Linked DNA regions of Homo sapiens: regions 1, 2, 3, 5, 6 and 7 are each linked to region 4. The links come from fine-mapping of genetic effects on gene expression. A gene starts in region 4. Each other region holds a variant in brackets. All regions are shown on one strand. Distances are from middle to middle.

Region 1 (4,000 bases), 310 kb before region 4:
CGGGGGTGCCAGATGCCTGGAATCCGTTCCTAACCTTCACGAAGCACCTCCTGTTTACAGGTACTTCATGCAGACCATTTCATTTAGCCTCCACCTCACAGAGGAGAACCCCTCACTCAGTGATGTGCCTGTGCCACTCTGGGTTTCTCCATGCGTGGGTCCCTGGGCTTATCCTTCACCCCTCTGCTCCCTGCCCGTCCTGCAGAAGCGTCTGAGCAGCTAACCTGCATAGGGGCTTGTATATGTTGCTGAGAACTCTGGGGTTGGCTGAGCATCCCCCAGGCCCCTCATCTCGGAGGTGAGATGGGCTGAGGAGCGAAGCTTCCTGAGTGGGGACATGGAGGCTCCACAGAGGGAGGAGTCAAGGCAGGTGTACAGGAGACAGGGATTACTGAGTCTCCTTGAGTTCTGGGACAGGTGGGAAGTGTGAGGGTCTCCTCTCGCGGTGGACGGGAGTCAGGAAGGAACTCCCAGAACAGCGTGGAGACCCCTCCCCTGCCAGCTGGCGAGCAGTGTGGTGTTCTGGGCAGCAGAGGGCGCCACGGCACCAGCTTTGTGGTGAGCTTGGGCAGGACTGGGCTCAGCTCCTTGCAGAATGTGCACTGAAAATCCGGGAGGGCTCTGGGCAGGTCAGCGGGAGCCCACCACTCTGGGGTGCTGAAGAGTCATCCTGCAGGCTGCCAGGTGCTCCCCCTGTTCTTGCTGGTTTGCCCCTAGGGAAAGCCTCCTGACCCCCAAACCTCCAGTGCTCCCCAGTGTCTGAAGTACCATCTGCAAGGGACACACTCTGACTCCCGGGGAGCCCAGGGCAGAACTAGGACGTAAATAGTGTGGGCAGTGGAGCCACGGAGCTGGTGCCATGTGAGGGGTCTTAGTAACTAAGCCCTCCCTAGGGCCGACTTGAGGGCCAGACTGTAAGGAGTGGGCCTGAGGGTGCTGGGCCCCTTCAGGGAGGTGAGGGAAGAAAGGGAAGGCTGAGGGCTGGGAGGTCACGTTGGCCGCAGCAAAGCCACAGATGGGCTGTGAGCTGGGCATCCTTGCTTCATGGGGAGGCATTGGGAAGGCTGGTGTGTGCCCTGCTCGTGTGTACAGGCACACATATGCAGAGGCAACATGTGTGTTGGTAGGCAGGTCATGGACAGAGAGAAGACTGAGCCAGTAAAAGGGCCAAAGAGGGTTGAGGAATGGGGAAGACTGCACCCCCATGTGTCCCAGCATCTCTCGTGTGTCGGGGAGGCTAAGAAGCTGTGTTCTCATCCAGGAATGGCAAACCCATGGCATGTGCGCCACCATCTACCAATCCTACCACTGTGGCAGACATCACTAATCCATTGCAGCTCACTTTCCCCTGTGAGCCAGGACATGGCCTCATCATCTGTGGCCACAGCTCTGCAGACAACAGCCAGGCAACATTTTTGAGCTAAAACCATTTCATTTAGGGAGATCAAAACCATCTGCCTCTAAACAGGTGGGAATTCTCAACAGGTCCCCAAGGAAGGATGAGGCCACATTCCTCCAAGTCACTGCTCTGTCACCCAGACTTGGGGCGGGGAGTGGGGCTCAGGGCTCCTCCCTAGGAATCATGGGGCCTTACCTCCCTCTAGAATGAACCTTGGTAGATGCTCCCCGTCCCTGCAACCAACAGGTTCAGGAGGTCCCCAGGGAGCCAGTCCAGAGTGATCCAGCTGCAAAGCCCTTGGGAAGAGCCAGGAGCAAATCCTCGGGAGGCACCACCAGAGGCTAAAGCCCAACAGTAGAGCCCTGACCTCTTTTCCACCCTCACCTGCCCCCACCTAGTCTGGCTGTCCATCTGGGAGGGGTGGAGGCAGGGCCCCAGGAGGCCTGCACAGGTGGGCGGAGGCCGGGGCAGCACCTGTGATGAAGTAGCTGAGCTCTGCATTGAGGCCCACGTCGTTGTCCGTGCAGTTCAGCCAGACCACCCGGAACTCGCGTGGCACGTCCTCGGACACAGACACATTGTACACGGCCGGGAAGAAGGTGGGCGTCTCGTCGTTCACATC[C/T]AGCACTGCGGGGCAGAACGGGCGCCGGGGCTAGGCCTGGCTTCTGCCGCAGAAGACCCAGCTCCAGAGCAGCGTCTCCAGCACCAGACCAAGTAGGGAATGAATTCCCAAGGGAGTCACGGGCTCCAAGTGGCATCTGTGTCAACACCTCCTGGCCATAAGCCCAGGGCCCCCCATGCCCACCGGGGCCAGGACCAGGCCCACCAGTGCTCCAGACCCTCCCGCTGTCCCTGTGCCCTGGGGGCTTATTGCTGCTCAGCTGTCAAAGGGAGGAGAGAAAACCTTAGAACCTCTCTCCAGTACGCACCTAACAACGACCATGGCAACACGGACAATCATGACAACGATGACGACAGTGACCATTTACGAGCTTGTCCAGCGTGCCAAGCCCATGCTGAGTGCTTCCCATACAGGACCACATGCAGCCCTCTGAGCACCCTAGGAGGTGGGCATTATTAGACACACTGTGGAGCTGAGGAAGCGGGAGCTCAGAGCAGCTGAGTGACTTGTCCAAAGTCACACAGTGGCACAGTGGAGGGCTGGAGCCTCAAGGTCTACCCTCAGCATGCAACGGACTTTCAGCAAAGGGAGCTCACTTTGAAAATCCCACCCCCCGAAATAAGGTTTAATTTCCCTTACAGATGTGTTTACTCCGCTCTGCATGCTAGGCCCCTATTCCTCAGGCAGATGGGGCTTGGACAACCTTCATAGCGAAGTGATCCCCACCCCACTTGGGTTCCTCTGAATGGTATCACCAGGAGAGATCCTGGGCCCATTTGATGTTATGGCTTCTGCTGAGTCTTGGAGAAAGGCCCTCCAGGGGTCCTCTCTTAAAGCTGGGACATATTCCCTGTCCATCATCGGCCAATAAGGGGGTCCTGAAACTGGCAACAGAAACCCACAGGCAAGCTTCGGACCAATGGGAGAGAGAATGTTGTGCTCTCTGAAATCCTCACCATCTTAGGTCTCAACTGAAGAGGGTCAGTGTCTGAGCCTGTGCTGAGCTAACTACACCCTCCCCCGCCCCCTACCATCCCATGGAGGCCAGCAGAGCTAGGATGGGATTGAACAGGCTCAGGGAACAGGCCATGTCTTGCCTGCTAAACTCTGCCCTTATTTCCCTGGGGTTATTCCTGGCCCCTTGGCAACAGCTCATGTCTGCATCCTGTCCTGAAAATTAAAGACTCATCCAGAGTGGAAACAGTACCCCGTCCCTTCACCAATAGAGGGCAGAGACACTGGGAATGAGCATGAGAGTCCCAGGGGGATGAGGATCTTAGGGAGTCTGGGAGTCCCAGCTGCTCTCTTCCCAGGGTGATGCCCTGCTACTGCCAGTCCAGGGGTTCCACACCCATGGGAGGGGGAGGTCTCCTTTATGTCTCCCAAACAAAAACTCTGGCCTTCCAAAGAAGACAAAGGGCTCTGCACCCTCCCTGCCTGTTCATGACCCTGAGGGTCCCGGGCCCTGCTCAAGCCCTCTCTGCTGTTGCCACGATCAGAGGCTAGGAGGGGTGGGGTTGATGGGGCTTTGGCAGCAGGTCCAGGCCACTGCCCCTGAGCTCTGGGGCACTGAAGGCAGTGGTCAGGTGTGGAGAAGGCTCTGCTGTGTTGAATGGCTCCAGCTGGGGAGGGCACCTCATTAACAAGGGAGCCTGTGCCTACAAGTCCAATAGACAGCAGTGGGGGACATGGGCTCCCCTCTACCCCTGCCCCTGACCCAGGCCTGTGCCCACACACTGAGCACACAGCAGAAGCCCCTGCGCCCCCTCACCATGGATGGTGAGCGTGCTGGTGGAGCTCTTGGTGGGCGTGCCTGCATCACTGGCCACCACCCGCAGCTGGTACTCCGCGATGCGCTCGCGGTCCAGCTCGGTGGTGGTGACCACCACGCCGCTGCTGCTGTTGATGAGGAAGTCCATGCGGGGCATGCCCACCGGCATGCGGTAGGACACCAGGCCGTTCAGGCCCTCATCGAGGTC
Region 2 (4,000 bases), 430 kb before region 4:
TGTCATTTTCATCTTATTAAAGCTGGCCCAGAGCAGACATTCATAAAATTCTACTTTAGAAACTTGCTTGATAGTCACCAGTTGACACTGTTGGAAATGCTGGGGGGTTTTTGTTGGTTGGGTTTTGGTGCATTGTTGCAGTGATTTGTTTAGCAATCTGTTTCTCTCTCCTCAGTGCAAGAACTATATCAGCCAGTATTCTGAAATTGCTATCCAGATGATGATGCACATGGTAGGTGGCACGGAGGCCCCTTGTTAGCATTTTTCTTTGTTTTTCAGGTTTCGTCATTTCTAGGAATTTTGAAAATTATATGGTTTAGTTTCCCTTTTTTACCTTAGAGTGCTGAATTGGGCTAAATCGACCCCTCTGGCTAGGAGACTCTCCACTTGCAATCTCAGTACCTCCCCTGTTACGGGAGAGGCAGGCTGAAGCATCTTGATCCCAGGACTGCCCTGGTGGCTTCCTGGCAATTTGTTTGCCTCTGCCCGTTCAGGCCAGCCATCAGGTTTCTAGGTCTGGCTTTAACCCTGGGATCTGTAGAAGTCAAGTGCTCTCTAACTAAGCCAGGCCTGAGAATGGCTGTGTTGCCACCTGAGTCGGGGGAATACTGCCTCCCGGAGTTTGTCCCGTGCATGGCAGCAGCGTCCGCTGAAGCTGCTGCTTGAGCTGGTAACTCCTGAGCTGGCTTTGGATGCATTCAGGTGGCAGGGGGCATTCCTTCATTAGAATCAAGAATACCCATTCAGGAAATGAGCTCGCTAGTCCACGCAGAGCAGGGCGGCCTGCTCACGTTGGGAACGGGCACTGCCTCCTTAGATCTGATTGGCAGGGCTGAGTGGGTGGGGGGCACCTTTTCCCTGTCTGTCATGCTTTCTGACTACTTGAGATTGACATACCAGCGTTTGAGTTTGTTCTCTGATCCAGGGGTCAGCAAACTGGCCCATCATGTTTTGTACTTAAAGGGTATTTTTTTGGAACACAGCGACGCCTGTTTTGTGCTACAGCAGCACAGTTGAGTAGTTGCAGCCAGATCTTATGGCCAAGGAGCCTGAAAGATTGACTCTCTGACCTGCTGTAACCACTCAAGCAAGCTGAGGAGGAGTAGTTTATTTGGGATTATTACTCACACCCTACCATGTTCTAAAAACAGTTAAAAGGCAGCTTACAGAGACATGCACCTGAAGTAGGTAAAGATAAGCATTGACGGGATTTAATCTCGTGAAGTACTTCCTCATAGCTAACTTAAAATATTTTTCTCATTATAAAAGTTATACTGTGTAGAAATGTGTTGAAAATATGGACAATACTTCCCACACAAAAATCATTTGGAGTTTCAGAATATATCAACGGGTTCATATATACTACCTTGTACTTTGTAGTTTGCATTTTTTGCCTAAAAATATGTTGGCCATTGAATATTCTTGTACAAATGACTAAATGCTTGCAGAATAATCACCTGTGTACATAGAAGAGAATTTACATAATTGGTCCCCGGTGGCCGGATGTATCTAGGTTGTTTTCAGGTTTGCCTTTGGGAAGATGAATATCCTTATAGCCAAATGCATACATATATGCATATCCCTGCCTTTCCCCTTATTATAGAGAACTAAAGCTGGAACTGCTGAATGGAAGCATGAGGCTTTGGATACATTGTTAAATTGGCCTTCCAGGCTGCCATTTGGCCACCTGCAGTAGATTGCCCTAGGATCCCTTACCCCTCAGGGATCCCTTACCCCCCTTACTTGGGCAGCCCTGTGTCTTGTTCTGTGGTGCTGCTGGTCACTAACCTGTGGGAAAGCCTTGTGGGCCCGGGGCCAGTGTGGGCTCCTGAGTATGGAGACCCTTCATCAAGCATTTTCTGGGGCTCTTGCTACA[CA/A]GTGTTTTGAGTGTGATTTAGTGTGTAAGACCTGGAGATGGTGCACACAGAGCAGGACAGCCCCCAAATGGTCTATCCCTGCAGGGCCAGGAAAGCTTTCAGGGCCCCCTTGTCCGCAAGATAGCAGGAACAAGGTAGGTTGCTAAGATCTGATTGCAAGAGCATTTCCCCTGAACCTCTTGGGACATCCTTACACCTGGTTAACTGCTTGATTGTTGTTTTAATTTTTCTTAACTGTTGTGTCCTTTCCTTTCTCTTATTTTCACCTCCGATTTCCTGTTTTTTTGTTCAACAGCAGGATCAGGTATGTGTCGGGGAATCTGCTTGCAGTAGTGGTCTGCTGCTTCCTCTAGTTACTTTGCTTTTTTTTTTTTTGGGTATGGCATGATTAGCTCTGACAGATACAAGGAATGGTTACGAGAGGCAGGCTCCCTCTCTGTTAATAGGCTGGGGAGGGCTTCTGCATCTCTCCCCTGTAATTCAGCCCTTGAGGTTTTGGGGGTCTCATCTCCCCTTCGGGGTCCAGTAAAATGAAGCCAGCAGAGCCTTGTGCTCTGGTCACAGTCCACATACAGCATACGTACATGCAGGCCACCAGTGTGACAATGGGGAACCATGGGTGGCCCAGGAGGTGCCTCAGCCTCCTTCAACGTAGGCCAGTTAGGAAGTCCAGTGTAGGTCTGGCTTCCCCAGGGCACCTTGTGTCTGTCACAACGCAAGTAGGCATTGCATGTCTTTAGTGCTGTTTTTCATAAACACAGAAATGCTTCTGCTGCATGAGCAAACATTTGCAGACAGCCAGCAGACTGTTCCTGGCTGTTGGATCCAGAGAATTGGAAACAATCTCTTGATTGTGGCTTCTGCCCCTCTGGGTAACAGGGTCCTTTGGGATCTAGAGCCACATCAGATGGCATGCTACAAGAACCAAATGCCCAGTCCATACTTGCTCTGAGCCAGTGTCCTTCGGGGCCGTCCTGAACACTGCCACCTCTGAGCGTTGGCATCCATCTGCTAGGATTAGCATTGGAGCTTTTTTTGAAGGTATTTTGAAGTCTAATGGGAGAGGACTTTGGTTGAAATACCTGAATTTTTACCTAGGCCTCCTCAAGGAGTTGGAACAAAGCTGATCGAGGCAGAAGCAGCCCTATACCTCCTGAATATTGGCGTCTTTTTTTTTTTTCTAAAAAGCTTGCTGTATCTTCAGCTGCGTTCTTATTATTTATTTATTTATTTATTTATTTTTCATTCTTAAGGTGTGGCAGAGACAGGGTATTTGGGATATACTTTTCAGACTCCCCCGGTCTTATTAATTCTCGAACCTTCTTGATATTAAAACAAGATGAGCCATAGTCATGGTCTAGCTCTTTTCCCTTAACAGGTCCTGTTTTTAGCACTTTTGTTCCTGCTGCTTTAGGGTTTGGTGCTGGAAGGCAAATGCACTCAGGCTCAGAGCTAGTTGCTGGTTGCATTTATTTCCACAATATACAGAGTCTATACACTTGTCTCACTCTTGGCCATCAGAGTGTCATGGTCAGGATGTCTAGACTATCTAGTGCTCTGTGTTTGGTGTCTAAATGGTGAAAGGGGATCAATCTGGAGACCTTGTGGCTTAAAATGATTCATCCATTTGGCGGGTTGGGTTTTCATGTGCACTGTGTGCAGCTTGAACATAGAATGTGGTTTTTTAAAAAGCCAGCATTTCCCCTTAATGCATCATTTTAAATGGTCCTGCCGCTGAAAAATCTGGTGTGGTTTTATTTCTAACACATTTGGCTTTCTGTTAGTTTATGGGCATGGTAGTTCCCCCTCTAGAAAAAAGCATAGCTTAGTTCCTACCTAGAGTGACCTGAAAAGACACATTCTAGAACAGACCAGGTGTCCTTGGAGATGTGGAAGGTGCTGGGGAGTCTCCCTCGTGGTGGCCCTGGATGGAGACTCTGTTTGATGTTCCTTAGGAGCTTTGTGTGGTCTCCTCCCCGAGATGTAACTGGCACATATGCACTGCTTCAGACACGAGCCCTTTAACATGGAAACTGGAATCTGCCCCGTTGTGGGAGGGGGAGAGGGAGGTAGCCTTGACCTGGGCCCAGGGTGCTGTCCAGCTCCCTGTCCTCTGGCTGGAT
Region 3 (4,000 bases), 75 kb before region 4:
CAGACTGAACCTCCTGTTTCAAACTTACTCCTGGAGCTGATTGGCACATACTCTGACCCCTTCCTTAGGGATTTTCCCTTTGGCCCCACCCTGAGGGCTCCCTGGAGGTGAAGGCCACTGGACCCTCTGCAGAACAAGCTGGCCCTGGTGGCATGTGGGAACAGGCTGTACTGGCAGCTGGTGCCTCTGGCATTGTGGAGAGGAGGTGGGGGAGGGAGCGGGCACCAACATCCTGGACTCTGGAGCCTGGCATGAGAGCAGTGCCATTCCTAGGTTATAGATGAGCTAAATTAGCTGTGACGCTCATTAGCGGCAGCTCCTAATTAGTGAAAATTAATATTGGCTTTGATAAAGACGTCGGCGCCAGCTCTCCAAGGCAGAGGCATTATCATCCTTGTCAGCTGGGCTAACGACTGGGTAAGTGGAGGAGCCAGGGGGCCTGGGAGTGGGCAACAGGTCCCTGGGGAGGGAGCTTGATGCTCACAGGGGCCAGCTGTGGGCACCCCTGCCCACTGCTCACCTGACCCTCTAGTAGCCATACTGCAAGGGCCTGGCCCCACGTCTAGAGCTGCAGCTACAATCATCATCCATAATATTGTTGGGTTCTTCTGTGCCCCAGGCAGTGTAGCAAATGTTTTCACATGTATTTGATGATCCCAAGAATGTTGGAAGTAAGTACTTTTTTATCTCCATTTTACAGACGAGAAAAATTGAGGCTCAGAGAGGTTGAGGAACTTGCCCTGGGACCTCTGGATACCAGGATTTGGGCCCAGGCAGCCTGACTCAAGAGCCATGATCCTGACTTTGGTATTATCCTGCCCTTCCCTTCAACCTCACCCCCAAAAGGGGCACTCTGGATGCCAGCCCCATCGTATACCAGCACGTAACATCATATCCGGCACACAGTAGGTGATCAGCAAATACTTATGAATGAACACACAGGTGCACAGAGGGCCCTTGGTATTCCTCCATGGCATTTATATTGACTTTTTATGTCTTCCTTCTCCATCCACTTGATGCTGTGGAGAACCTGTACTTCCATTTACAGCCCCTGAGTAAGTCCAGGACAAAGTCTCCAGGCTCTGTATTCCAGAACACCGCCTCTCCAGTAGGGAAGACTCCGGGAGCATCCTGCCTTCCCAGGCGGGAATGGAGGCCAGGAGGCTTTGCCCAGACCTTGACTGTGCTATTGCCAAGTGACCAGCTCTGGGGCCTGGCTCCTCTGCCACTTGGGAGAGGACTCGGCAGATGGGCTTCCCTTCACCCCAGTCCCTGCTCCCCAGCCAGAGACCCTGAGTTCCAGCCCAGGGTAATGAGGGGAAGTAACAGATACACCTACTTTTAATCCAAATAAAGGAAAAATGTTTGCCACCATGGAGTTTATAAAAATAACAATGCATTATTCGGGTATTAATAACAATAAAGATGTCAAACTGTCAGATAAGAAGTTAATCTCATTCCGAGCACAATTAAAGATGCTATTTTCCCACCACCTGGGACCACACTGGAGTCTACCACTCAGCAGGCTTAATAGATAAAGGGCCATGCACAGAGCACAGGAGTCCTTGGCACTGCCAACCTGCCCTCCCACCACTTGCTGCCACCTCCAGACCCCTCCCTTGGCAACCCCAGCACAAGGGCTCAGGCCTCGCTTCGCTGTGGAGTATCTGGCAGGACCTTCAAGGCCAAAGGGCGAGGGCAGAGCAAGTTGAAGCCTGGCCCATGTGCCTGCCATTCACCCAGGCATTTCCTGGACAAGTGAATGCTGGGCCAGCACTGTACAAGCAGAGGGGACAGTCCCTGGCAGCTGGGCTGAGTGAGGGTCCAACCAGAAAGAAGGAGACACTGTTAGAGCTGCGAAGAGAGGGGATTTAACGTGGGGAATCGGTCACACGGGTGATAGAGGAGCCAAGAGGCCAAACAGGGCGGTGTGGTGACCCAGACAGAGGCCCAGCAGAAAGCCACACTGCCAGCCCTTTGCGGGAGGGACAAGGGAGGAGGTGGTGTTAACAGGAGCCAAGAGACACAAACTTTGGAGCTACCACCCGAGGAGAGAAGGAAAGAAACACCCTGGCTCCTCC[C/G]TTCCTCCCACCATCCAGTCTCCTGCCAGGGCCTCCTGTTGGCTAAACCCAGGCAGAAGCCAGCTGATCTGGGAGCCTGAGGAAGGCAGCCCATGGGGTCAGCTCCCCGCCACTCGGAGCAGGGCTGGAGGTGGCCAAGAATGGAGCTGAGGACAAACAAGCTCGGGACTGGCCCAGGTCCAGCCCTGAAACTGAATCACCTATCATCTGTCGAGCACCAGATCCATTCCAGGCACACCTGTAGATGTGGGGGACAAAAATACAAATTAGAAGTCACATTGACTCTCAAAGCAATTACCACCTATTGGGGGAAATAAGCATATAAACAGATGGTTTCCACGTAGGATGTGTGTACATGCTAAGCTGTATTACAGGCCATGAGTACAGAGGAAAGATCCCAAGGATGGAATCCCAGCAAAGCTTCCGGGAAGAGAGACGGCTTGAGATGCATGAAGGAAAAGAAAAAGGAAAGGAAACCTAGGGCAGGTGTACCAGGCCGCAGGAATGGCAGGAACAAGGCCCTGGGGTCAGAAACAACACGGCGTGGGATGGTTAGAGAGGGAGGGTTTGGGGAAAAGTTCTCACGGGGACACGTCAATGGGGGTGGCGCTGGCCCTCCTGGTGCAGCTTCCAGGGCTCAGCTGGGTCCACGCAACTGGAGTCCAGGAAGGTGGCTGGGCTGGAGACTGGGTATCACTGGCTTGGGGGTGGTCATAAAGCAAATATGAGGGAAATCGCACCACAGAGAGCACATAAAGGGGGCAGAGGGTGCGTGCCTGGGAAGCATCACTGCTGAGTGGGAGACGGAGACAGAGAAGGCACAATCACAGTGGTGGGAGAGAAGCAGGGGTCCCTGAGGAACACAGTTCCAGGTCGTGAGTGACCTGCAGGGTCAAATCCAGGGAAAGGTCCCAGGCATATACCATCTGCAACACATTTGCTGAACTCGGCAGAGTGAGAGCCACTGGCTGGCCTTAGTGGGTACCACGTCAGTGTTGTGGTGGGAGCAAGAGCCGGGCTGCGCGCAGATGGCAGTGCAGTAAGCCAGGGACTGCGGTCAAGAGTGGGCGAGTGCATGAGCTTGGCTGAAAGACCCGCAAAATTAAACTTCTGCTCTTCAAAAGACACTGCCAAGAGAATGAAAAGACAAGCCACAGACTGGGAGAAAATATTTGCAAATCATATATCTGCTAAAGGACTCAGATATATGAGTCCTTTATCTGTATATAAGGAACCCTCAAAACTCAATTATCAGAACATGAATAACTCATTTTCTAAACATGGTCAAAGATTTGAATAGCCACTTCACCAAAGTAGATATATGGATGGCAAATAAATTTGTACATGAAAAGATGCTCAACATCATTAATCATTAGGAAAATGCAAATAAAATGACAATGAGATACTATCACATAAGTATTAGAATGGCTAAAATAAAAAATAAGGGCCAGGCACAGTGGCTCATGCCTGTAATCCCAGCACTTTGAGAGGCCAAGGCGGGAGGATCACTTCAGCCCAGGAGTTAGACCAGCCCAGACAACACAGCAAGACCCCACCCATCTCTACAAAACATAAAAAATTAGCTGGGTGTAGTGGCACATGCCTGTAGTCCCAGCTACTCAGGAGGCTGATATGGAAGGACTGCTAGAGCCTAGGATGCTGAGGCTGAAGTGGGCCGTGATGGTGCTACTGCACTCCAGCCTGGGTGATAGAGCAAGACAAAAAAAAAAAAGTAAAATTAAAAATCAAATACGTCCCATAGTGGACATTGCTAGGGGGTAGGAGGAAGGGAGAATGAGAAGTTATTATCTAATGGGTACAGAATTTCTGTTTGGAACAAGTAAGTTGGTTCTGGAAACAGGCAGTGGTGATGGTTGCACAACACTGTGAATGTAATTAATGCCACTGAACTGTACACA
Region 4 (4,519 bases):
ATGAGCACTTCAGGAAGGTGCCCTTTAAAATACTTGGCTCAAATAAATGAACCTCAAATGGTGAAACTGCAGGTAAGGTAGCTTGTTGAGTGGGGGAGCTATTCCAGAGGCAACCAGGACCATCTGCTATCACAACCCTCAAATCAAGCCCTTTGGTAAGCAGACGTGAGGAGCCCAGCTGTTTAGAGGTGAGGAAGGCCAAGTCTGAGAAGTATATGCGGACCCAGCACAGACGGGGCCAGGATGCTAGCTCTGGGCCTCCCACCCCTCACTGCTGTCCTCCAGCACTCGAGGCAGAGCTTCCTGGTTCACACCAGTGGCTTCTGTGTGCCACCTTCCCAACTCACGGGGGACACCCACCCTCTACCACGAGACACTCTGCCTTCCTGCCCTCCCCAGCCCTGGCAGCCAGAACCAAGCCTTGCTATTCCCCCAGGCAAGGGGCCCCTTCCCAGCTCCTCCTTGGCAGAGTAACATCTAGTGCCCCCACCCCTGTAGGTGCTGACCGCAGTGCGCCTACCCCTGCACCACGAACCAAGCACTAACTCCAAGCCAGCTCTCCCCATCGTGGGCTGACTCATCATCACCATGCAACTGGCCCCAACTAGGTTCTTAAAGCCCGCCCCACCCCACACCCCACAACCTAATTCTTCCCTGTGTGAGGGTCTGACTCCACCCAACACACACACACACACACACACACACACACACACACACACACACACACTCCTGTGTCTCTCTAGCTTATTTCAAAATCCAAATTAGGGTTGGGGCACTTCCCAAGGGGCTGGAAGGCGAGGTCAATGTCAATGCCAGCTCTGGTCTGAGAGGGCAAAGGACGTAGAAAAAGAAGGCTCTGCTTTCTGAATTACTAGGGAGGATGGGGGAGTATTACTACCGAGGAAAGGCTAATTTCCTCCCAGTGGACCGCTGACAGCACTAGGGCTGGGGCTGGGGTCGCAGTGGGGCGGCGGCTGGCATCGGATCTCCGCTCACAGCACGGAGGCAGCCTCTCTAGGTGCCCGCTCCGAGAAAGCCAGGCAGAGTCCCCGCCGGCTGGCGCCGTCACTGCCTTGGAACACGCGGGCTCTGCTCGAGTCCTGGGCTGACCTACGGTGGAGATGAGGGGCAGTGCTCCCGGGTGCCAGCTCCTGGGGGCAGCCAGCACCGCTCGTAGCGGACCAGTTCCAGGGCCAGGAAGGCGAAGCGAGAGCCGCAAAAGGCTCCCGGCTCCTCGAGGGGCGCGTCTTCCCATAGCTGGACCGAATTTGGGAGGATGTGTAAGTCCCCTGGGGTCTCCCGCGGGCACAGGGACTTGATGAGGGGAGGGGAGAACTACGTGCCTTTAGTTCCCCTCAGCGCCTCTGCCCAGCCCGCAGTAGGGGTGCGCCCCACCCCATCCCCACTGTCCAAATGGGGACCCAGGGCTCAGAAGGGGAGGGGATTGGATCCCAACGCGCTCCACTCTCGAAAATCTCTCCACCCCAGACCTGGACCCTCTCCGTAGCGCCGAGAGCAAAGCCCCCAAATGTTCGCGGTCCCAGGACCGGGGATGGGGGATGGGATGCCTGTCCTCCCAAGGCCAACGCGAATGGAATTCGAGTTCCCAGGAATCAAAGTTGCCGCGCGTCGGGGAGCTCGGAGCGGGGCGCGAGGCTAGGGCCAGGGGCCTGGGACCGAAGGATGCCGCGAGCGCCCGCCACGGGCGATGGCCGCGCTGGGAACAAGTGGTTCGGCAGCCGCGGTCACCACCAACTTCCCCGCCGCGCGGCGGGCGAACGGCGAGGGGAAGGAGAGGGAAGCGAGGAGGGAAGAGGCGGTGCGTGGCTCCGGGTACCGTGTGCGTGTGTGCAGCGGCGCCGCGCCTCGCCTCGCCTCGGGCTCTGCTCTCCGCCGGATCGGCCCCCGCGGGCCGCCTGCTCTGGCCCTGGCCACCGCCGCGTCTTCCCGCCGGCGCGAAGGCTCATCCGCGGCGTGCCGGCAGCTCCTGGGTCTCCGCGGGCCGCTCGCCGCTCGCCGCTCGCCGCTCGCAACTTCAGGCGCGCCGGGGGCTCGGACTGGGCGCGCCCCAAACGTCCAGAGGCTCTGCCACCCCGCGCTCCATGCCCAGGCCGGGCTGACTAGCCCCGACCACCTCAGCGTCCGGCCGCCGTCGGACGCGTCCTCTAGCCAAGCATCGCGCCTGCAGCCCGCGTCCCTCTCTCCCGAGCCGCCGCCGCCGCTCAAGTCCGCGATCAACTTTCCCTTGCTTCCCCCGCCCCGCTCGGCCCCCGCCCCGCTCGGCCCCCGCCGTCCAGACCCCGCCTCCCGCAGCTCCCTCCCTCACCTCCCGCCTCGCCCGGCCCCCGCCCGCCCGCCCGCGCTCGGCGCTCCCCCACCCCTCAGGCCGCCAGGACCCCCGAGCTCCCGCCCGGCCCCGCCCGGACCCCCGGGAGCGGCGCCGAGCCCCGCCGGGCGCTCAGGGCATGAATATTTCAGTGCTGGCGAAGCTGCCCTCTGCCGATGTCATGGCACCGGCTGCTGTGGCAACTCTACGAATCCCCCAAAGGGGCAGGGAGGAAGCCCGCGGAAGAGGCCCCAGGTGCGAGACAGAGCAGTGCCCCGCCAGGCCGCCAGCCGTCCCGCAGAGGGGCGCGCAGGGGGATGGGGCCCCCAGCGTCTCGTCCGCCCCGCGCCTCAGGCAGAGCGAGGTAACGCTCCCGGGAAGCCCGGGCGGGCGAGCGGGCGCTCGGCCTAGGTGAGCCCGCGCCATCTGTTGGCTTTAAGCGCCCCCTCTCTGCTCCCAGAGTCGCTGAGCAGTCCCTCTAGTCCTTGGGGCCTCTTGGCCTACGCTTCTCTCCAACCAGCTGCCTTTGCCCACCCGACTCGTGCGCTCCCATCTGCGCCTCCTCCCTCACTAGAGCTCAAGAGGCCTCCAAGTGCTTAGAAATGGAGGACCCCGGGTTGGAGGAGACCCGTGAGGTCACTTAGGCGCCCTCACCCCTGCGGGAGCTCCGTCTGCAGTGCCCGAGTCATGGTCTCCCGGCTCCTTTTTGCACACCTATAGGGACAGAGACTTTATGGCTTTCTGAGACAGCTGGATCAAGAAAGGGTCCATATGCAGGTAATGGAAGAGGTTTATCCCCTACCTTTGATCTTTACTTCCCCGGGGCTAAGCATTCTGATTTTTTAAAACTATTTCTCACATGACAGGATTTCCGAGCTGTCACTGTTCCAGTCAGTACATTGACAGTACCTGCCTGGAGCCAGGCTCTGGGCTGAGACTTTCTGGGCCTCAACTCATTCTATCTTCAATAAAGTCTTTCTGGTGGGCCCTGCCATTATCCCAGTTTTACAGTGAGAAACAGGCTTTAGGAGGTTGGGGACTTGCCCCTGTGGTGGAGTCGGGTATTGAACCCAGAATCTATCTGGTTCCAAAGCTCCAGTTCCTTACCATTCGCTCATTCATTATTCATTCATTCATTCACAGTCACTGCTATGTGCTAGCTAACTGAAATAGTTTCTAGGAATAGGATGGAGAACAAAACAGGCTTGGTCTTTGTGCCCCATGAAGCTTCTCTAGTAGGGGAACCAGACATTCATCAATGAAACACATAAGCAGGTAAAATTACAGCCAGAATCAGTGCTAGGAAGAAGAGTGCTTTAATGGCGCCTGGCCGAGGGGATCAGGGAAGACCTCCTAGAGGAGGTGACTGAGCTGAAGGATGAGCAAGGGAGAGAGAGTGGAGTTTTAGGCAGGAGAAACAGCATGTGCAAAGGCCCCAGGTGCCCACTGCAGGCAACGGCTGGGCCAGGAACAATGGTTTGGTGACCGCAGTCGCAATCAACTTGTGCAAAGGTGGGAAGGAGCTGGCATATGTCAGGAAGTCCAGAAAGGGTGGGGAGAGCTCCGTGCCTCCAGCGTACGAGGAAACGCTCCTGGGAAGCTTGGGAGGGTGAGTGAGCCTGCACCATCTGTTGGCTTTAAGCACCCCCTCTCTGATCCGAGTCACTGAGTGGTCCCTCTAGTCCTTGGCAGTGACTGTAAAGCCACAATGGAGTGGGGGCCAGACTGTGCAGGTGTGTTGGCCTTAATCAGGAGTTGATCTTTATCCTAAGACTGAAAGCTTCAGAGGCCGGGCTTGGTGGCTGACACCTATAATGGCAGCATTTTGGGAGGCTGAGGCAGTAGGATCACTAAGACTCTATCTAAAAAAAAATAAGAGAGAGAGAGAATTGATTGGGAGGCAACAGTTGATGAGAAGAGACTGCTTCAATTAAAAGTATTTATTTGTCAAATACTATGTGCCAAGAAATTTTCTAGACCAGGGGTGAGCACACCGCTACCCAGAGGTCAAATCTGCCTCATCACATGTTTTTGTAAAGAAAGTTTTAGTGGCACACAGACATGGCCTGTTTGGTTGTGTCTCCTTTCACACTACAACTACAGACATAAGGAATTTCAAGAGGGACCGCATGGCCTGCAAAAACAAGAAATATTTACAGCCTGGCCCTTTACAGAAAACGTTAGTTAACCCCT
Region 5 (4,000 bases), 340 kb before region 4:
TGTGACTTTGTAGCTCATTCCTTCAGAAGGTAGAGTTTATTTTCCCATAGCTTGAGTCTGGGCTGGCCTTGTGACTTGCTTTGGCCAACAGATTGTGGTAGAAGTGACCTTGTGCCAGTTCCAAGCCAGGGACTCAAGAGGCCTTGCACGCCTCTGCTGTCTCTTCTGGACACTTTCCAGCCCCATAAGAACAGGCACGGGCTAGCCTTCTGGAGGATGAGTTGTCCCTGTCACCCCAGCTGCTGGCGAGCCAACCCTCAGAAGCATAGCACCCTGCTGACAGGCAGCTGCCCACATACAAATGCAGAAGCCCAGCTGAGACCAGAAGAACCACCCGGCTAAGCCATGTCCAGATTGCCAGCCTGCAGAATTAGCGCTAACTATGTGGTTATTGTTTTACTCCTCTGTTTTGTTTGGTTTGTAAGGCAGCATTATTGTGGCAATAGAGAACTAATAACAGTCCTCTTCCTCCTCATGGTTTACCAAGTGCTTCCACAGACATGAGCTAATTTGATTCCCCAAACAACACCTATGAGGTAGATATTATCTCCCTTTTGCAGATGACAAAAGCGATATGCTGAGAGGTTCTGACTTGCTCAAGATCATGCAGCCAGCCACAGTGCTCCTGACTCCAAATTCCCTGCTTTCAGTTTATAAGCCACTCCCAACACAGCTCATCAGCTCCTAGAGATCTCCATCCAGCCCTTGAGGACCACAAGTCCTTCCCTCACCTGGCAAACTTTGAACATTGCCTTGGGCAGTGGTGCTGTTCATTCGAGCGTTAGTGTGAACCACAGACACGAATCCCTTCCCACCCTGACGTGTTGTGACAGCATGCCACACCACACAATGTAGGGGAAGAGGGCCAGAGAGGCACCCTTTCTGTAAGACACCACCATGCACATTGGTGTGACCTCACAGTGCATAGGTGGGCAAGTGAAGCGGGGGCTAGATTCATACCCACTTGCTCCCTGGGCCAGGCCCCAATACAGAGGCTCAACCTGTACCACCCCATAGAGCTGCTCTGTGAGAGAAAAGAGGACTAAACAGAGCTTCTGAGTAGCTATAGACTCGGGAGGCCAAACTAGCACCCCAGCTTTGCACGCAACAGGCCTCCGTAAGGGGAGGCCATCTTGGGCAGATGGACTAAAGGCAGATGGACTAAAGGAGTTGTCAAGGATTCGCCTGCTGTGTGGAATTCCATTCTCACCCATCTTGTTCCCCTCACTCGGAGGCGGAGCTGCCCTGGCCCACCCGCTCCTCCCTGTGGCCACCCCCATCGCTCACCGACAGGGTTGGGGTGCCCTCGTCCTCCACAGTGGCCACCAGGTGGTAGAAGCTCTGGCGCTCGCGGTCAGGCGGGGCAGGCCGTGTGGCGATCTCACCGCTGATGCGGTCCATGCGGAAGGCCATGTCCTTGTTGCCCTCGGTGATGTAGTAGGACAGAACACTGTTGATCCCGATGTCACGGTCAGTGGCTCTCACCTGGACCACAGCAGTACCTCCACCCACGTTCTGGGAGGAGAGCAGGAGAGCAGTCATTCTGGACTCAAGGCATTGGGGCACAGTCTGGCACCTGCTCCTGTAGCCCGAAGGCTCCCCCTGTACCTCCCAAAAGCTTTGCTGCATCTACCCCAGAGCAATGATGGAGATAATAAGGATGATAGCAGCGAACATTCTGTGAGCACCTCTGATATGCTGGGGCCTGCATTAACTCACTGGGTCCTCTCTCCAACTCTGTGAGTTAGGTACTGGCATCA[T/A]CATCCTCATTTACAGAAGAGAAAACTGAGGTGCAGGGAAGGAATGTGTGCAAGTCCACACAGCCAATCAGTGGGCTGAAGTGAGGGAGTCTGGCCTGAGAGCTAGACTCTGGCCACATGTCATCCTGCCTTCATGAACGTCCAACCTAGCATGATACCCAGCAATGCCAGGGCAGATTGGAGTGGCTCAGTCTTAGGGCTGAATAATAAATACATTTTTTAAAAAAGCAAGCTCCCGGGGTAAACCTCAGTTTCCTGTCTGGTGAAAGGCAACTTTCTTCTTTTTCTCTTTTCTCTTCTCCTCTACTCCAAAAAGATACTGCATTCTAGGATCCAGGCTAGGCGTTAGGGCTATCACTACGAATGAGCCACAGTTCCCATCCATGAGATCTGAGGGACCAGTGGGCCAGGCAGACATTTAAACAGGGGCTGCATGGTTGGCTCGTGCCCACGGTCCCCCCGTATGTCCAGCTATATGGGCCCCGGGGCTGCCCTCACCTCATTCACACTGACATTGTATCCAAAGGGGCTCTCGATGACTGGAGGGTTGTCATTGATGTCCAGGATGGTCACCTGCAGGATGTGGTCCTTCTTCCGTGGAGGGGTGCCTCGGTCAGAAGCCACAACCTGCAAGGAGGAGGGCAACTGGAGTCAGGGCTAAAGCGTGGCGGGCAGGATTGGGAATATGGAGTCCAAAAGGGCTGTGCAATCAGTGGGGAGCATTTGGGAGGGCAAAGAGACTCACTGAGAACCCCTGGGTGGCCTGGCCAGCCCTGGGCTCTCCCGGCCAGCCCTGGGCTCTCCCCAAAGCCTTCACCTTCTGCCCCATGCTGCAAATGATTCTTGCCCAATCGTCGTCTGACTTGGGATCCTCGTTTGGAATCTGATTAACATGTACCCAAGCCTTGACCTCCTGACCTACCTCTGACTGTATTCTGGGCTGTGCCAGCCTTTGACCATGACCCTGGGCCTGCAACCTGACCCAAGGCTCCTGTCTTTAGCTTCAAAGGCCTCTGTCCCACGCACTCTGTCCCATGATCTCTGGCAAACGGGAAAAGAGCCTCAAGTAATATTATAAGCAATGAGCTGGCGCCCTATGGCTGAGCCTGTTCCTGGGAGCCTTGATGCAGTCATAAGTGCTGCAGGAGCTGAGCCCTCTGCAGAAGCGCAGTCCTGAGGTTCCCAGAAAGCCCTTGGCAAACATCCCAGCCATGGCCATTCTGCAATAATGATAGCCTTCGTGGCTCCTCAAGCCTGCACTTGCTTCTTCCCTCCACAGGGCAGGCCAGACGGGGATTTTTTTGTACATTGCATAGGTGGGGAAAATGAGGCCCAGAGTTAATAACCTGTCCAAGGCCACACTGTATTTGTAGAAGAGCTGGGGCTCTCCCAGCTCCACCAGGCTCTCCCTCATCCTCCTGGCTCTTACAGCAGGGGAAGACACCTCAACTACCTCCTCCTGGGTATCTAAGGTCCCTCCCAGGTTTCCCTATCCTGGGTCAGCCTCACTGTGCTCTTGGCCCCGATGGGTGCAGCTGGCCCCATGTTACTTGGTGACAGCAGGGGCACTGACCACCAGAGTGTGCTGATGGACAGGCTCTCTCCTGGATGGAGAGTAGTGACCGGTCTAGGCACTTAGCCAGTGGTCTCTCAGTCCAAGGGAGGCCAGGCCCCACCTGGAGGATGTAGTGATCCAGCTCTTCTCTGTCCAGGGGCCTGGCCACAAACACTTCGCCAATGGAGTCATTGGTGGTGACGATCTCAAAGGCCCCCGCGATGTTGCCAGAGGCCAGGGAGAAGACCACCTGTGGGGAGAAGAGAGGGTGAGGGGTGAGCAGGTGTGGAGGAGAGGTGGCCAGGTCAAGCCAAGGGGGACTCCCTGGTCCTCCTCTGCCCACGTGGGCCCTCTGTTGAGCAAGGGCTTTTGGGAGTGCAGTGTTTTAAGCAGAAGTGATTCATCTCCCTCAAAATGGGGGTGCAGGCCCATGGAGGTAGTGTAGCACCCATGGAAAGTTCCGGGGCTAGGAGATATCAGTATCCTGGCCTGGAAGAGTGGGGCTTGAGTCCCATGGCACTGACGTCTTCCCAGGGTAGAGGGGATTGTGCTCACGCTGCTGGGGTGGGCACACGCTGCGGCATTACCTGGACTCTACTTGGTTCTTACGGCAACCTTGACAGAAAGCAACTGTTCTCAGTTCACAGAGAGGAGGCTCAGAAACATGGAACAACCAGCCAAGGTC
Region 6 (4,000 bases), 380 kb before region 4:
CTTGTCTGACAGATGTAGCCACACAGGGAAGTTCAGTGACCTCGTTAAAGTCACACAGCAAGTTTGAGTGAGTTGCTGAGATTAGGACAGGGGTCTTGGATTTAGGCATTTCCCTCAGACAATCTTCCCCTAACCCCTTCCCGCATCGGAGCTTTCTGGGTCCCATCCTTCGCCAACCTCCAAGCCCAAGTTGGGGCTGTGTCCCATGCACCCACCGTGGTGGTAGAGGTGAGGCGGTGGGATAAGATGGGGCACTGGTCTGTGGCAGTGACGATCAGGGTGTAGCGGCCGTGGCTGATCTCGTAGTCCAGCTCTTTGGCAGCAGTGATGACACCCTGGGGGACACAGGGAAGGGACAAGGATGGATCTAGGGGTGGTAGGTCTGCAGCACCCTCTGACCAATTTGGGAAGTAGGCCCTGACATTGGAGCTGTGATGGGGAACCACTGCCACCCCCTAGCCCAGGCTCCACTCCACCAAACTTTTCATCCTCCCACACTGAGTGCCCCCACAGTTTCCCCTAGACTGCATCTTTGCTCCATCCCCCTCCAGTGTCACTGAACTCCTTGCCAATCCCTGGATAGGTTTCGCCCCTTGTCTTGATCCTGCCATCAGCTGCTGACCATGTGTCTGTCGATGCGGAAGGTGTTGACGATGTTGCCTGCGACGATGGCATAGGTGACTGTGCCGTTGGGACCCTCATCCAGGTCCAGTGCCTGGATGGTGATGAGGCTGGTGTTGAGCGTGTCTGGGCCCTCATCCAGCAGCACCTCATAGTGGGGCTGCTGGAACATGGGCGCGTTATCATTCTCATCCACAATGGTCACGTACACGTGCGTGGTGGCCTGTGGAAAAGAGTGGGTCACGTCCTTGGTCAGGTGGCCAGAGGGACCAAGGTGGATCCAGATGGCTGTTCTCCTGGGCTGAACTCACTCCATGTGACTCAAACAGAAAGGGCAAGGAGAAGAAAGCAGGGGGTGGGTCACAGGCTGGTAGAGAGAGAAAGCTCAAAAACTCCACCAAAAGCCAAGTAAGGTAACTGCTCTGTCCAAGATGGCACTGGCACCACCACTCCTATGTCTGCGACCCCCAGCAGACATCACTAATCAATCACAGAACTGCTGAGGCCAGATGCAAACTTGGGATCCTTGTTAGCACAGTGGTCTAGTGATTAAGACTGGCATATGGGATGAACCCTGGTAGTCACCCCAGCTCAGAGCTTTACGAGGGCCTGTGTCTTATTGAGCCTATATGTCCTGCCAGACTACAAGAGGCAAGAATGTGAGGCACTCGGCCCAATGCCATATTTAACCTTCATCTATTGTTCATGTAAATGAAAGAAATACATATTTTCAGCATTTCCAGAAGGAGGACATTGGGTTTGTGGCAATTTCGTGGGCAGAACTTGTTGACCTGTGAAAAATAAGACTCACAGAACATAACTTCATTCCAAGAACAGCTTCTACAACATACTCTCCTGTGATCGGCCATCTCTGCCAATGCTTGAGTCAATTGGACCACAAGTAATATTCAGCTAATCAGAACTCGGCAATCAGCACTCAAGAATCAACTAGAAATGGTTCTTGCTCCTGCTTCCTGCCTTTCTCCACCTGGGAAGATGTCCCCTGTGGACTAACTGCCTTACCCTGGCTCCCTTGCTATCCAGCTTCCTGCTGGGTGTGGCCAATGGGAGGCCCTGGCTGAAGATGAAAGCAGTGGGGAGAAAGAGGCGGGGGTGTTTCTTCCACACTCCCTCCATTCCTCACTGCGGTTCTGCCCATGGCTGTGTTTCTCCTGCTTGGGGACAGGGGTCCCCCTTTCATAGCACCAGCTTTCACTGGGCTCCAGAACATCACTTCCTCTTCTTTCCCTTTGGACATGTGAGTGGTAGTGGCTTCCTGTGGTTGGTGCTAGTCTCTGGGTGCTTTACCAGCCTTCCTAAACAGTCCCTGTATTAAACTCTCTTCAGTTGAACCCTTTCTGAGTGTGCCATCTGTTTCCTGCCAGGACCCTAACTAATACAAATCATAATGAGTGACTAATATAAAATAATAAGGTGTTAATCACTGCAAAGGTGTCTGGGTAGAGAGAA[C/T]GTGACTAGGCCATTGCCAGGCCAGAGAACAGAAAGCAGGTGGTACAGACAACTCAATGTAGGCAATTTGCATATGGTTTTTTCCTTGGGACTGGCTGGCTCTGGAGCTACCACTGGAAGAATGGACAGATGGGCAGGGGATCTGGACCCAAGAAGGCTGTCACTGCCCCTGAGGAGGCAATGATTCCTCTGATATGCAGCTCTGGATCTTGGGGGTGGAGGGCATTGGGTGTTTGCTGAAACGGTTTCCAAAGCAGATAGGGTTGGCAGCCTTGAAAAGGAGCTGCGTGGCCTTGGGCAGGTCACATCCCCTCTCTGGACCTTTTCTGTCTGTTTAATAAAGGACCTGGCTTGATTTCTAAAGTTGTTTCTAGCTCAGGGAGTTTGGGAGGTGAGTTTGGGAATGTGGGAAATGTCAGCATCCCCTCCCCAACAGGGAGGCTGGAATTCAGCCCCTTTCCTGCAATGTGGTGCTCTTGTATTCTTGCCGGCAAGTAAGGGGACTCAGGAAGGCTCAAGGCTGGGCCCCTCACCAGTAGAGAGTACTCACAGCTGCCTCCAGGCCCTGCAGAGCCACAAGATGGACATGGTGGCTTTCCTTGACAGTCATCTTTATTCGAATATTTGGGGCCTTCACCACTATTTTTAATGAAAACAAGCACAAACACATGATGGAGTGTGCAGGCTGCAGGGGCTGGGAGTGGAGAGTTTGAACAGAGTTGGGCCTTGGAGCCCCTCCTGCTCTGAGACCAGGTCTGGGCTTGGGGAGGGAAGGTGGGTTTGACTTCCTCTGGTCTCGGAGGGAGGAGAAAGTCAGTGCTCCAAAGGCCCTCTCAGCTGAGCCCTTCCTGTCCTGCCCTGGTGTTGAGGAAACAGTGCTTGAGGTTTCTGGACCATGGTCCTTGGGCAATGCCTGTGTCTCACCCTGATGCAACCCCAGGAGGCTCAGTGGTGGGCAGTGTGGTAGGGAGAAAGGAAGTGAAAAGGGGGGAGGGAACTGGGCCCAGCTCAGAGGCTCTATCCCCCTGGGGAAGGGGTTGGCAGGGCAATTGCTCCCCTTTCTCTAATTCCAGGCCCTCCCCGGCTGCTAGGCCCTGGGGAAGAGGGAGTCTGGTTTCAAGGGTGTCCTGAGCAAAGCCAGTCCAGGAAGGGTTGAGATGGGGTGGTGCTCTAGGATCTTGCCCTTAAGGGACCCCCCTCACTTGCCAGAGGATGTCAGGGTGAGAAGGGCCCGGTGTCCACCTGATCTCAGTTGGCTTTGTACCTCCCCTGGTGGAAGGGAGCTCATGCTATGCCAGCAGGAAGGGCCCTGGGCTGCCTTCCAAGGTGGGGTCACAAGGCCAGGAGCATGCCCAAGGACCTGGGTTATGTCCTGCCAGCCTCTGGGGCTCCCATCCTGGGGAGTTCACTGGCTCCAGGGGGACTGGGCCTGCACAAGTTCACTTAGTAATAACATGATGCCTCAGCCTTCCTCTGTTGTAGCCTTCCCTGCCCTTAGAGCAAGGGCTAAGGGCCTCCAGAGAGCCCGTGACTTGGATCAGGCCACCCACAAGGCCCCCAGGACTCCTGGCTCCCATTGAGTCCTGATACCCTGGTTCCTGACCCAGTCAGACTCTGAGTGTCCTCTGCCTCTCAGCCTAGGAGTCACCTATTAACCCAAGATCCCTAAAGTGCCAGAAAAACCCCTGGAAGCTTCAGCTAGACTGGGGTAAACTGAGTAAAATGGCTGTGCTCTTCCACTCCTGTGATCCCTGGTCCTGGCCACGATCACCTCTGCTCCTCCATCACACAATCACTCACTCACTCATTGGTTTGTCCATTCAGATAAAAGTGCAGTAAAACCTTCTCCACGCCCAGCTTTGTGCTAGGGTCTCAGAAACATCAGAGAGAGGTTTGTAGTTTCGCTCTG
Region 7 (4,000 bases), 390 kb before region 4:
GAGCAGTGAGGGGTGGACCCACTCCCCTCCGGGGTAGTCCTCACACCTTACATGCCCTTCTTGAGGGATGGTGGGGCAGCTCTCAGACCACCCTGGGGAACAATGACCACGACTGTCTCTTCCAACCAGACCTGTGGCTTCTTTGTGCTCATAGGAGGCCCGGGAGCCCCAGCCCACCATCTCCCGGAGCTGCACCCATCCTTCCCCTCCCGCACCCACTGGGGTCTAGGTTCAGCTATGCCGTTAGGCATAAGGGAGGTCCTCAGGCATCCCAGGCCCCAGTGGTGCCTGGCAACAGCAGGAGCTCCCGGGTGGGCCCAGCACCTACCAGCGGGAGAGTTTTCCATCACCTCTGCCTGGTAGGTGCTTTTAGTGAAGAGGGGGTGGTTGTCATTCTCATCAGAAAGGAAGATCAGAAGCAAGTCATAATCCTGCAAGGGGCAGAATGGGGCACGTTGTAGGCCATGCTCAGCAAAGTGCCCCCACCTAGGTGGGAGGAGGGTTGGGAGGTTGGGGATTGGGGCACAGAGGTGGATGATCAGAAAAGCCCACACCAACATGAACTCACATTTTTCAAAAGAAGACATACAAGAGGGCAACAAACATGAAAAAATGTGGCCGGGTGCAGTGGCTCATGCCTGTAATCCCAGCACTTTGGGAGGCCAAGACGGGCAGATCACGAGGTCAGGAGATCGAGACCATCCTGGCTAACATGGTGAAACCCCGTCTCTACTAAAAGCACAAAAAATTAGCTGGGCGTGGTGGCACGCACCTGTAGTCCCAGCTACTTGGGAGGCTGAGGCAGGAGAATGGCATGAACCCAGGAGGCGGAGCTTGCAGCGAGCGGATATCACGCCACTGCACTCCAGCCCAGATGACAGAGCAAGACTCCATCTCAAAAAAAAAGAAAAAAAGAAAAAATGCTTAGTGTTGCTAATCATCAGAGAAATGCAATAAGCCACAGTGAGGTACCCTCTCACACCAGTCAGAACGGCTATTATTAAAAAGTCAAAAAACAACATGCTGGGCATGGTGGCTCACGCCTGTAATCCCAGCACTTTGGGAGTCTGAGGTGGGCGGATCACTTAAGGTCAGGAGTTCGAGACCAGCCTGGCCAATATGGTGAAACCCTGTCTCTACTTAAAATACAAAAAAATTAGCTGGGCATGATGGCTTACACCTGTAATCCCAGCTACTTGGGAAGTTGAGACAGGAGAATCGCTTGAACCCAGGAGGCAGAGATTGCAGTGAGCCGAGATTGTGCCACTGTACTCCAGCCTGGGCAAGAGAGCAAGACACCATCTCAAGAAAAAAACAACAGACACTGGTGAGGATGCAGAGAAAAGGGAATGCTCATACACTGCTGGTGGGAATGTAAATTCCTTCAGCCACTGTGGCAAGCAATATGGAGATTTCTCAAAGAACTAAAGACAGAATTACCCTTCAATCCCACAATACCCCTCTACTGGGTACCTGCCCAAAGGGAAATACATCGTTATATCAAAAAGATACTTACACTCACATGTTTATCGCCACACTATTCACAATAGCAAAGATATGGAATCAATGTAAGTGTCCATCCACAGAGGACTGACTAAAGAAAATGTGGTATATAGACCATGGAATACTACTCAACCGTAAGAAAGAGTGAAGTCGTGTCTTTTGCAGCAACATGGATGGAACTGAAGGCCATTATCCTAAGTGAAATGACTCAGAAATAGAAAGTCAAATATTGCATATTTTCACTTATAAGTGGGAGCTAAATAATGTGTAACCATGGATATACAGAATGGAATAAGAGTCATTGGAGACTCAGAAGGGTGGGAGGATGGGAAGAGGGTGAGGGTTGAAAAATTATTTATTAGGTACAATGTTCACTGTTCAGTGAGTGGCAGTGAGTTCACAGTTCAGTGAACATTGGACATAATAGGTAGTTTTGGGTACACCTGATGGGTACACTAAAAGCCCAGTCTTCACCACTACACAATATGGACATGTTAAGAAACCTGTGCTTGTACTCCCTGAATCTAAAAAAAAAAAAAAAAAAAAAATCTGAAAAGCGCCCACACCAGGGTTCAAAGACCTGGGTTGAAGACCCTATTCTGGGTGATCTTGGGTGCCTCATTTCCCCTGTCTGGGTCTCAGTTTTCTAGTCTGGCAAATAGGGATTTAACTCCTTCACGGA[G/A]GTGTGGCAAATGGGATTGAATCCTGTTCCATCTCACTTCAGGCGGGAAGATGAGTCCTGTTTCTCGACCTTCAAGGCCTTCCTGTTGCCCTGGCTGGAGTTCATTCAAACTCTGCCAGTGCCTCACTTCACACTCGCAAACCTCAGAACCTCCAGTACCCCTGTGCACTGTCACCACCTCAGAGACAAGGGAACCAAGGTGCAGAGATGGGGAGTGCCCATTCAGAGCCAAGTGGTGAGTTAGCAGCAGAGTGGGGCTTAGCCCCTAAGCCCACCGAGTCCTGCCACTCAATGCTGCTTTTACCCGGGGCCCTCCTGAAGCCAGGCAAGGGAGAGGAAAAATGAGAGCAGAAAAGAGAAAAAGTGGGGGCAAAAATGAGGGAGTAGAAGCTGGGCATGGTGGCTCACACCTGTAATCCCAGCACTTTGGGAGGCTGAGGCAGGTGGATTGCTTGAGGTCAGGAGTTTGAGACAAGCCTCGCCAACATGGTGAAATCCCATCTCTGCTAAAAATACAAAAATTAGCCGGGCAAGGTGGCGTGTGCATGTAATCCTAGCTACTCGGGAGACTGAGGCACAAGAATCGCTTGAACCTGGGAGGTGGAGGTTGCAGTGAGCTGAGATCACGATTGCACCACTGCACACCAGCTTGGGTGACAGAGTGAGACTCTGTCTCAAAAAAAAAAAAAAAAAAAAAGAGTAGGAAGCAGAGGAGCACCACATGGGAGGGGCATGTAGCTTATGAGTTTCTCCAGCCTGACGTCTCCTCTGGCTAGACCGATAGGGAAACTGAGGCCCAGAAAGAGTGGTGCCTTGGCTGAGCCACACAGCTAGTCAGGGGCAGAGCTGAGATGAACTGGGCCTGAAGGCTTCTGGCTAGGAATCTACCACAGATTCATGGGCTGGAAGGACAGAGCTGACCCCCAACCCAAAGGGACTGTTTGCTTTGCAACATCCACCTCCCTTTAGTCAAGAGCTCATTTCTTTGGCTTCTGAGGGGAGAGCCACCTGGAAAACGCAGCCCTTCCAGGACCTCAGAGCATGCTTGTGGGTGAATGCAGGCCCATGTGCCCCATGCACAAATGCAGTGTGTGTCCAGGTATCAGTGGTTTGGGGAGGAAACAATGATAGTTGATGTTCACTGAGTGTTTGTCACACTCCAGGCACTGTGCTGAGGCTTTCACATATATTGGCTCCTTCATCCTTTCTACAACTTTGGGGTAGGTGAGATCTTCATTTTGCAGAAGAGAAATGGAGGCCAAGAGGAGTTAACTAGCCAAAGCCACGCACCTACTGAAGGAGAGAACTGGGATTTGAAGCCAGCACGTGCTCACTCCAAAGCCTGTGCATCTAAGCCTGGCTATGCTGCCTGCAGGAGGGGTGATGTGTTCTCTCTCCATGCGCCTCTAGCTCCCAGCCCACTCCCACCAGTGCCCTCCAGTCTCACCCTCCTGGCTATGCGTGGATTCTCCGGGTTGTCCTTCACAGAAATGGTCAGCTTGTACTCTGGGATCCGCTCGCGGTCCAGGGGCCGGTTCACAGTGACGATCCCTGTCTGGGATGTGGAGGGTGGTGAGCTGCATGGAGACCTTTTCCCTGCTTTCTACTTTGGCCCACAGATGCCAACTGCTCTGCTTGGCCTCCCTAAATTGCCTAAGAGATGATCTAGAAGGCCAAAAATGTGGGTCGGCAGGGTCTCGCCGGGGCGAGAGTGACCCACTCATGCCCAGGCCTTGCTGCTTCTGAGAGATGGCCCTCGGAGGACCCCATGGTGTTGTTGGCCATCTACAGACACCTCAAGAGGCTAAGTGAGAA

Direction of the effects. Positions count from the first base shown, and alleles are read on the strand shown. Sizes are in standard deviations (SD) of each study's normalised expression. Not every link is listed here.
For the expression in tibial artery of the gene that starts at base 2,236 in region 4, allele C in region 3 goes with a higher level than allele G (moderate effect, 0.60 SD a copy in GTEx).

The links. PIP is the estimated chance that this variant, and not a neighbour inherited with it, causes the effect.
Region 1: its variant is fine-mapped to the expression of CDH23 in whole blood (TOPMed, PIP 0.96).
Region 2: its variant is fine-mapped to the expression of CDH23 in whole blood (INTERVAL, PIP above 0.99).
Region 3: its variant is fine-mapped to the expression of CDH23 in tibial artery (GTEx, PIP above 0.99). The same link has a PIP of 0.9 or more in aorta.
Region 5: its variant is fine-mapped to the expression of CDH23 in whole blood (TOPMed, PIP above 0.99). The same link has a PIP of 0.9 or more in CD4 T cells.
Region 6: its variant is fine-mapped to the expression of CDH23 in whole blood (INTERVAL, PIP above 0.99).
Region 7: its variant is fine-mapped to the expression of CDH23 in whole blood (INTERVAL, PIP above 0.99).

Annotation. Positions count from the first base shown.
Region 1 is chr10:71,704,923-71,708,922 of GRCh38, reverse strand. It overlaps CDH23 (cadherin related 23), which reads right to left. Exons shown (of 70, transcript NM_022124.6): 25 at 3,793-4,000; 26 at 1,874-2,026. Among named protein-coding and RNA genes, the nearest start is that of C10orf105, 13 kb to the left of the region's middle. The variant C/T (reference allele first, on the strand shown) is at 2,022.
Region 2 is chr10:71,822,069-71,826,068 of GRCh38, reverse strand. It overlaps PSAP (prosaposin), which reads left to right. Exons shown (of 14, transcript NM_002778.4): 7 at 176-232. Among named protein-coding and RNA genes, the nearest start is that of PSAP, 27 kb to the left of the region's middle. The variant CA/A (reference allele first, on the strand shown) is at 1,877.
Region 3 is chr10:71,470,317-71,474,316 of GRCh38, reverse strand. All of the region lies in intron 3 of CDH23 (cadherin related 23), which reads right to left. It overlaps LOC105378356 (a long non-coding RNA gene), which reads left to right and starts at 263. Exons shown (of 3, transcript XR_946055.3): 1 at 263-417; 2 at 701-905; 3 at 1,028-1,439. The variant C/G (reference allele first, on the strand shown) is at 2,082.
Region 4 is chr10:71,394,637-71,399,155 of GRCh38, reverse strand. CDH23 (cadherin related 23) reads right to left here and starts at 2,236. Exons shown (of 70, transcript NM_022124.6): 1 at 1,838-2,236. RefSeq lists an enhancer at 1,433-1,944 and a silencer at 2,628-2,717.
Region 5 is chr10:71,739,209-71,743,208 of GRCh38, reverse strand. CDH23 (cadherin related 23) reads right to left here. Exons shown (of 70, transcript NM_022124.6): 36 at 3,437-3,565; 37 at 2,259-2,387; 38 at 1,288-1,515. Among named protein-coding and RNA genes, the nearest start is that of C10orf105, 21 kb to the right of the region's middle. The variant T/A (reference allele first, on the strand shown) is at 1,761.
Region 6 is chr10:71,774,524-71,778,523 of GRCh38, reverse strand. CDH23 (cadherin related 23) reads right to left here. Exons shown (of 70, transcript NM_022124.6): 39 at 623-844; 40 at 216-335. Among named protein-coding and RNA genes, the nearest start is that of VSIR, 3.0 kb to the right of the region's middle. RefSeq lists a silencer at 363-518. The variant C/T (reference allele first, on the strand shown) is at 2,092.
Region 7 is chr10:71,785,371-71,789,370 of GRCh38, reverse strand. CDH23 (cadherin related 23) reads right to left here. Exons shown (of 70, transcript NM_022124.6): 44 at 3,633-3,740; 45 at 329-431. Among named protein-coding and RNA genes, the nearest start is that of MIR7152, 3.4 kb to the left of the region's middle. The variant G/A (reference allele first, on the strand shown) is at 2,186.